Linked DNA regions of Homo sapiens. The protein of the gene in region 1 interacts with the protein of each later gene in a pairwise test. Each region holds a gene or a part of one and is shown on either strand. Other genes may lie near its edges.

What was found.
Region 2: the proteins of ZNF639 (region 1) and ZNF837 interact in binary tests that used the Homo sapiens proteins (3 or more experiments, as listed by UniProt).

What each region holds. Positions count from the first base shown.
Region 1 is NC_000003.12:179,329,467-179,333,120, forward strand, and holds part of ZNF639 (zinc finger protein 639), read left to right. Parts: intron 1-151; coding exon 152-262; intron 263-3,522; coding exon 3,523-3,654. UniProt on the Homo sapiens protein: Binds DNA and may function as a transcriptional repressor.
Region 2 is NC_000019.10:58,370,962-58,374,615, reverse strand, and holds part of ZNF837 (zinc finger protein 837), read left to right. Parts: exon of another isoform or gene 1-2,074; intron 2,075-3,654. UniProt on the Homo sapiens protein: May be involved in transcriptional regulation.

The sequences.
Region 1 (3,654 bases):
TATAAAAGCTTTAAAAGTTGAAAATGTATAATATTTTCATTACAGATACTATAATTAACATTAAGAACATTTGTATAAGTTAGATAACGGGAAGTTTCTCATTAAATATGTATGTTTACTGTACTTGAAATATTTTTCATTTTATGTTCAGATTCCTCTGGAATAAGCAGAATTGCAGATGGATTCAATGGAATTTTCTCTGATCATTGTTACAGTGTCTGTTCTATGAGACAGCCAGATTTAAAATATTTTGACAACAAAGGTATATCTAATATTTTCGAAAATATGTTTCTTTAAACTGCTTTTACATTTTTTATTCCTTACTTGAAAATGTGGGTAAAATGTGGATTGATGATTTCAAAACAGACAAGTCTTTGAAATTTGTTACAATGTAAGAAAACAAAGTTGTATTTTTTTAAGAAAGCAAGTAATTTTAACTATTCTTTTTTTTTTTTTTTTTTTTTGAGATGGAGTCTCGCTTTGTCGCCCAGGCTGGAGTGCAGCAGCGCGATCTTGGCTCACTGCAACCTCCGCCTCCCAGGTTCAAGCAATTCTCCTGCCTTAGCTTCCTGAGTAGCTGGGGTTACAGGTGTGCGCCACCACGCTCAACTAATTTTTGTACTTTTAGTAGAGACAGGGTTTCACCATGTTGGTCAGGCTGGTCTCAAATTCCTGACCTCATGATCCGCCCACCTTGGCCTCCAAAAGTGCTGGGATTACAGGCTTGAGCCACCGTGCCCGGCTGTAATTTTAACTTTTAACATTATTTCTGACATATAAATAAAAAAGTGCACTCTCCTAAGTCCATTTTTTGAAGGGGGTGGGGTTAGGGGGAGACAGTCTTCATTCTGTCACCCATGCAGCCATGTCTCACTCCATGGATTATGGCTGACTGCATTCTTGACCTCTTGAGCTAAAGCAATCCTCCCACTCAGCCTTTTGAGTAGCTGGGACTACAGGCATGCACCACGATGCCTGGCTAATTTTTAAAAATTTTTTTGTAAAGACAGGGTCTTGCTGTGTTGCCCAGGCTGGTCTTGAACTCCTGGCCTCAAGCAGTCCTCCCATGTTGGCCTCACAGAGTGCTGAGATTGCAGGTGTGAGCCACGGCTCTCAGCCCTAAATCCACTTTAGTTGGTTAGGAATTGGTGGCAATGCAGGAGTGACTCAGAGTTGGAGTATTTATGTTGAAAGGTTAAGAATAGTGTTAGACACAGTTCTACTCAGCTATACCACATAGTGTGGAAGAAAAGAACAGAGGGTGATTTGGTATTTTTCAATGTTGGATCTTCTATTGGTTCCTCTGTTCTACAGCATTGGTGAATGATAACAATTTACAACTTGCACTTAAGTTAGAGAGTTAGAGACATCGGTATGAATTCCTGTTTAGCTTACTATAGATTCAGATGGCTACATACAGAATGCTTGTAGATATGTGTGTGTATATATATGTGGTACTGTACACACACACTTTGCTGTGTTAGCTGAGAGGGGCTAAAAGAAATGACACCCAGAAGCAGTGAGCATGAGCACATTCAGTGCCCAGCTCTTGGTTTCTAATGCCTCCTTGGGAAAATGGCTGATTCTAGGTCTGGGGCAGGAAATATACAAGATGAACCTGGAGCATTTTGTAGTGCTGGAAAATAGGAAAGTACTTAAAAAAACCTAAACACACGCACTTGACAGGGGTATGCCAAAGGGGCACACGTCAACTTAAAGAGCTCCCAACAGCCAAAACTGAAAACTATTTGGGGACAAAAAATTATAACCCAGAGTATAAAATAAATATCCATGAATTCATGCTGTTATAAATTATTAAATAGAGGAGATGAGGCAAATCTGTGCAGAAAAATTCCAAATTATTAGACTTCATCTTAGCCAAAAGGCCAAGAAGCAGTAAAACTCCAAATTATTTATGTAGCTACTCCTCCCTCTAGGAGGTGGAATATAAGTCTGCACTCCTTAAGCATGGTCTGCACATAGTGACTTCTTACAAAAGGTAAAGTATGGAAAGTAAAAGCACAACTTTAGGCCAGGTGCGGTGGCTCACGCCTGTAATCCCAGCACTTTGGGAGGCTGAGGCAGGCAGATCACCTGAGGTCAGGAGTTTGAGACCAGCCTCAACATGGAGAGACCCTGTCTCTACTAAAAATACAAAATTAGCTGGGCGTGGTGGTGCGTGCCTGTAATCCCAGCTACTCGGGAGGCTGAGGCAGGAGAATTGCTTGAACCTGGGAGGCGGAGGTTGTGGTGAGCCGAGATCGCGCCATTGCACTGCAGCCTGGGCAACAAGAGCGAAACTCCATCTCAAAAAAAAAAAAAAAAAAAAAGACAACTTTATAGTGTTGAAACCTGATAGAGACTTAGCCAGGTGATCAAGATCAACATCAACAACCATAAATCATATTGATAGTATGTACCCTTGATAAGAAGTGATGAAAATGGCAATTTACCTCTGGTCTATCTCCCAGTAATCCATAATTCCAGCGTAATCATTTTAAAAAAAAGAAAGCAGACAAATTCCATTAGCAAGGCATCCTACAGAATACCTGATTAGTACTCCTCAAGGAGTGAGAAACTGCCACAGCCAACAATAGCATAGAGAGACATGGCACCTTAATGGAATGTGGTATCCTGGAACAGAAAAGGGACATTAGGTTAAAAACTAAGGGCATTTAGATGACTTTATTGACTTTTATTAATAAGTTACCAGTATTGGTCATTAATTGTAACAAATGTGCCACACTAATGTTAGATGTTAGTAGTGGAGAAACTGGGATACATGGGACCTCTCCATACTATCCTCTCAGATTTTTCTGTAATTCTAAAACTATTCTAAAAAATAAGGTCTATTTTAAGAAAACATGATGGATGGGCTGAGTGTGGTGGCTCACGCCTGTAATCCCAGGTCTTTGGGAGGCCAAGGTGGGAGGATCGCTTGAGGCCAGGAGTTCAAGGCCAGCCTGGACAACATAGCAAGACCCCATCTCAAAAAACAAGAATTACCCGGGCTTGGTGGTGCATGTCTGTAGTCCTATCTACTCAGGAGGCTGAGGCTGAAGGATCACTTGAGCCCAGGAGTTTGAGGCTGCAGTGAGTGAGCCATGATCATGCCAGTGTACTCCAGCCTTGGCAGACTGAGCAAAACTTGGTCCCTCGCAAAATGTTGAAGCCCAGTTTTCACTATTAACCTGTATTTCAGTTTCCCCATGCTAACTTTGAAACACTGGGGCTGGCCTGAGGGTATAAAGGCTTATTCAAACTCAGTAATTTAAACTTAAAATCCTAAGGAACTTCAAAAAGTGTAATCTAGTCCAAATGGGGCATCAATTCTAAAGCATTTGCTTGTTTGAGCAGATTTTCTGTGTCTGAGGTATATAGATAACTTATCTTTTTATGACTAAATCCAAGTCCTTAGTTCCTGTTGGAATTCAAAATCATATTTAAAAATTGATGCTTTGTTCTATAATTAATGCTTTGATTGTATAAATAATAAGTATTCTTCCAAATCCCTTTTTACAGATGATGATTCTGATACCGAGACGTCAAATGACTTGCCAAAATTTGCAGATGGAATCAAGGCCAGAAACAGAAATCAGAACTACCTGGTTCCCAGTCCTGTACTTAGAATTCTAGACCACACTGCCTTTTCTA
Region 2 (3,654 bases), on another chromosome or scaffold:
TTGTGCAACCATCACCACTATAATTTCCAGAACATTTTAATTACCCCAAAACTTGATACCCGTAAAGCAATTACTCCCCACTCTTTCCCCTCAGCCCCTGGCGACCACCAGTCTACTTTCTGTCTCTGTGGATTTGCCTATTCTGGATATATCGTATAAATGGAATTATGCAATATGTGGTCTTTTGTGACTCACTGCTTTTACTTTCCATGTTTTCTAAAGTCCATGTTGCAGTATGTGTTAGTACTCATCCATTTTTATGGCTGAATAATATCCCATTCTATGGATATACCACATCTTATTTATGCATTTGTCATTTTATATACTTGGCTTGTTTCTCCATTTTGGCTACTGTGAACAGCGCTGCTCTGAACATCTGTGAGCCAGTGTTTGCTTGAATGCCTGAGTTCATTTCTCTTGGGTGGATACCTAGGGGTGGAATTACTCGGGGTGTGGTAGCTCCATCTTTACCTTTCTGTGGAGCTGAAGGTTTCCACAGCAGCTGCACTATCTATATCCCCACCAGCCAGGTGGGAGTGTGTTCTGTACTTTCCTCTTTTTTGCCATGTCTTCTTGTCCTCAGGGCAAACACTGAGCATGGATGGTGCCAGCTGAGGCCAATCAGCTCACCTGCAGTGGGGGAGCCCCATGATAGAGCTTACTGCCAGCAGCTTTGCCAGTCCTGGGTGTATGAGTGGTGCTTTTTGAAATCTTGTCCCGCCCCCTCCAGCTCATTTACTTTATTCACACAGTGAGTCCGTACTCCACATTCTGGAGAAAGCTTCCCTTGTCTCCCTGTGGGGGCCTGTGAGAACCCCATCCAGACTCAGGGAGCCCAGCTCCCTCTACTCTGGTGTCTGTGGGTTAGATTCATGTCCACCTGCTGTTGGGACGGTCAGTGCCCATGAGCAGGTGAGGCCTGTGGCTGCTTGCCTCCCCATGTGCCCATATCATTCCCCATCCTGTTCTTGGGAAGCTGCATGGTCAAGACCTGAGGGCAGAAGGGACAGAAAGAGAGTAACAAGCTACAACAGCAGCCAACCCCTCACCTGGAAGGAGTAGCCTCAGACTCAGATCCACAAGTGTTTGGGAAGGGGATGTTTGTAACTGAGTGCCCATTCTCTCTCACACCCTTCCACCTGCGTGGGAGGTGACAGGTCACTCTAGGTGCCCTGTGCACAGTCCAGGCCACGGGGCAAAGCATGCTGGTGTTCAGCACCACCCAGATGTCCTCGTACTCAGAGAAGTTCCTTACTTCCAAGCATGCCTCCTTGAGTCCCAGGCTCCAGCTGGCTGATAGGTGGAGAGACCAAGGCATGAAGTGGCAGAGCCCACAGTGGGGGGAGGTGATGGATTTTCTCTAAATTAGACCTGATTAGTGCCACTCTTGAGGGAGGGAGATCGAGGAAGGATCGGCGCCTTTGGGAGTCTGCATCTGGCTCCGGGAAGTCTCAGGAAAACCCAGACCCCGAGTGGCTTTAAGGTGCAGAGGGAGAGGCAGCCTCACCTTTCCTGTCTCACACAGGCCTGGAGGGGACAGGAGGGTTGTGCAGTTATCACGTGTGACAAGTGAGGCTGAGAAACCTCACATCACACCAGAGTCCCCTTGTCCTTACTGTCACCCTGGCTTATTAGCAAATGCCTGGCCTGGGACTGGTACTTGCTGAACCCTTGGCACTGGGCCTTTCTGCTCTCCAGCTCAGGCCAGCAGCCTCCCATACAGCAGAGCAGGAACCGGGCCTGGCTGCTTCAAAGGCCTTTCGTGACCTGCAGAACTTGTCCAACTCTGCATTTTTGTCTTTAACCAGTTTGGTATGTTTCATTTCCACTCAAAAACATTCATCCCCAGAGTGCTGGCCATCAATGCATTTCTGCCATTGTGGTCATGATGTCCAAGAAGGAAATAACCCCCCAGGGGCAACTGGCAGCAGCTTCCTTTGGAGAACTGCAGCCAGTCGCTCTGAAGTGTCCTTGGCTGAAAAGTCAACATGTAGAGTCTTGGTTAAATGCTTCGTGAGTCCTTTTAGTTCCCGGTCAAGTTATTTCAGGCCACCAGGTGGCCCAGGGCAACTGCCTGTTAGAAATCTGCAAAACAGACAGAAAAAGTGACATCAGGTCAAGGACGTCTCACCATGTTGGCAAGGATGGTCTCGATCTCTTGACCTCGTGATCCGCCCCCCCCGGACTCCCCAAGTGTTGGGATTACAGGCATGAGCCACCACACCCGGCCCTCTGAGACATTTAATAAATGGATATCGGCTGGGTGCGGTGACTCACGCCTATAATCCCAGCACTTGGGGAGGCCGAGACGGGTGGATCACCTGAAGTCAGGAGTTCAAGACCAGCCCCGTGAACATGGTGAAACCCCGGCTCTACTAAGAAAAAAATACAAAATTAGCCGGGCTTGGTGGTGAATGCCTATAATCCCAGCTACTCAGGAGGCTTAGGCAGGAGAATTGCTTGAACCCAGGAGGCGGAGGTTGCGGTGAGCTGAGATTGTGCCACTTCATTCCAGCCTGGGCAACAAGAGTGAAACCCTGTCTCTAAATAAATAAAAATAAACAAACAAACAAACAAATAAATAAAGGGATATCTGGCCAGGTACGGTGGCTCACGCCTGTAATCCCAGCGCTTTGGGAGGCCGAGGTGGGCAGATCACAAGGTCAGGAGTTCAAGACCAGCCTGGCCAGCATGGTGAAACCCCATCTCTACTAAAAATACAAAAAATTAGCCAGACATGGTGGCAGGCACCTGTAATCCCAGCTACTCAGGAGGCTGAGGCAGGAGAATTGCTTGAACCCAGCAGGCGGAGGTTGCAGTGAGCTGAGATGGCGCCACTGCACTGCAGCCTGGGTGACAGAGAGAGCCTCTGTCTCAAAAAACACCAAAATAAATAAAATAAAATAAGAGGATATCTGCCTTGCACAGAATAGGGAACACAGGACAAAAGGAGAAGAATCTGAGCTCCTGTGCCGAGTGAAGCAGTGATTTACGAGGGTGCCACAAGTGTGTCCATCTCACGCTCTGCATATGATGTTAGCCATCCGGGATTCAGAGTCTAAAGGCTGTGCTGGACAGATCCATCTTTGTTCTGGAAACAATGAGATCTAGGGAGGGGACAGGAGGATTGTGCACTTATCACGTGTGAGGCTGAGAAACCTCACATCACATCACAATGAGGAAAATATTTATTTATTTATTTATTTTTGAGACGGAGTCTCGCTCTGTCGCCCAGGCTGGAGGGCAGTGGCCCAATCCCAGCTTACTGCATCCTCCACCTCACAGGTTCAAGTGATTCTCCTGCCTTAGCCTCCTGAGTAGCTGGGACTACAGGCATGCATCACCATGCCCGGCAATTTTTTTTTTTTTTTTTTTGAGACAGAGTCTCGTTCTGTCGCCCAGGCTGGAGTGCAGTGGCGTGATCTCGGCTCACTGCAAGCTCCGCCTCCCGGGTTCACACCAGTCTCCTGCCGCAGCCTCCCGAGTAGCTGGGACTACAGGCGCCCGCCACCACGCCCAGCTAATTTTTTGTATTTTTAGTAGAGACGGGGTTTCACCGTGTTAGCCAGGATGGTATCGATCTCCTGACCTCGTGATCTGCCCACCTAGGCCTCCCAAAGTGCTGGGATTACAGGCGTGAGCCACCGCGCCCGG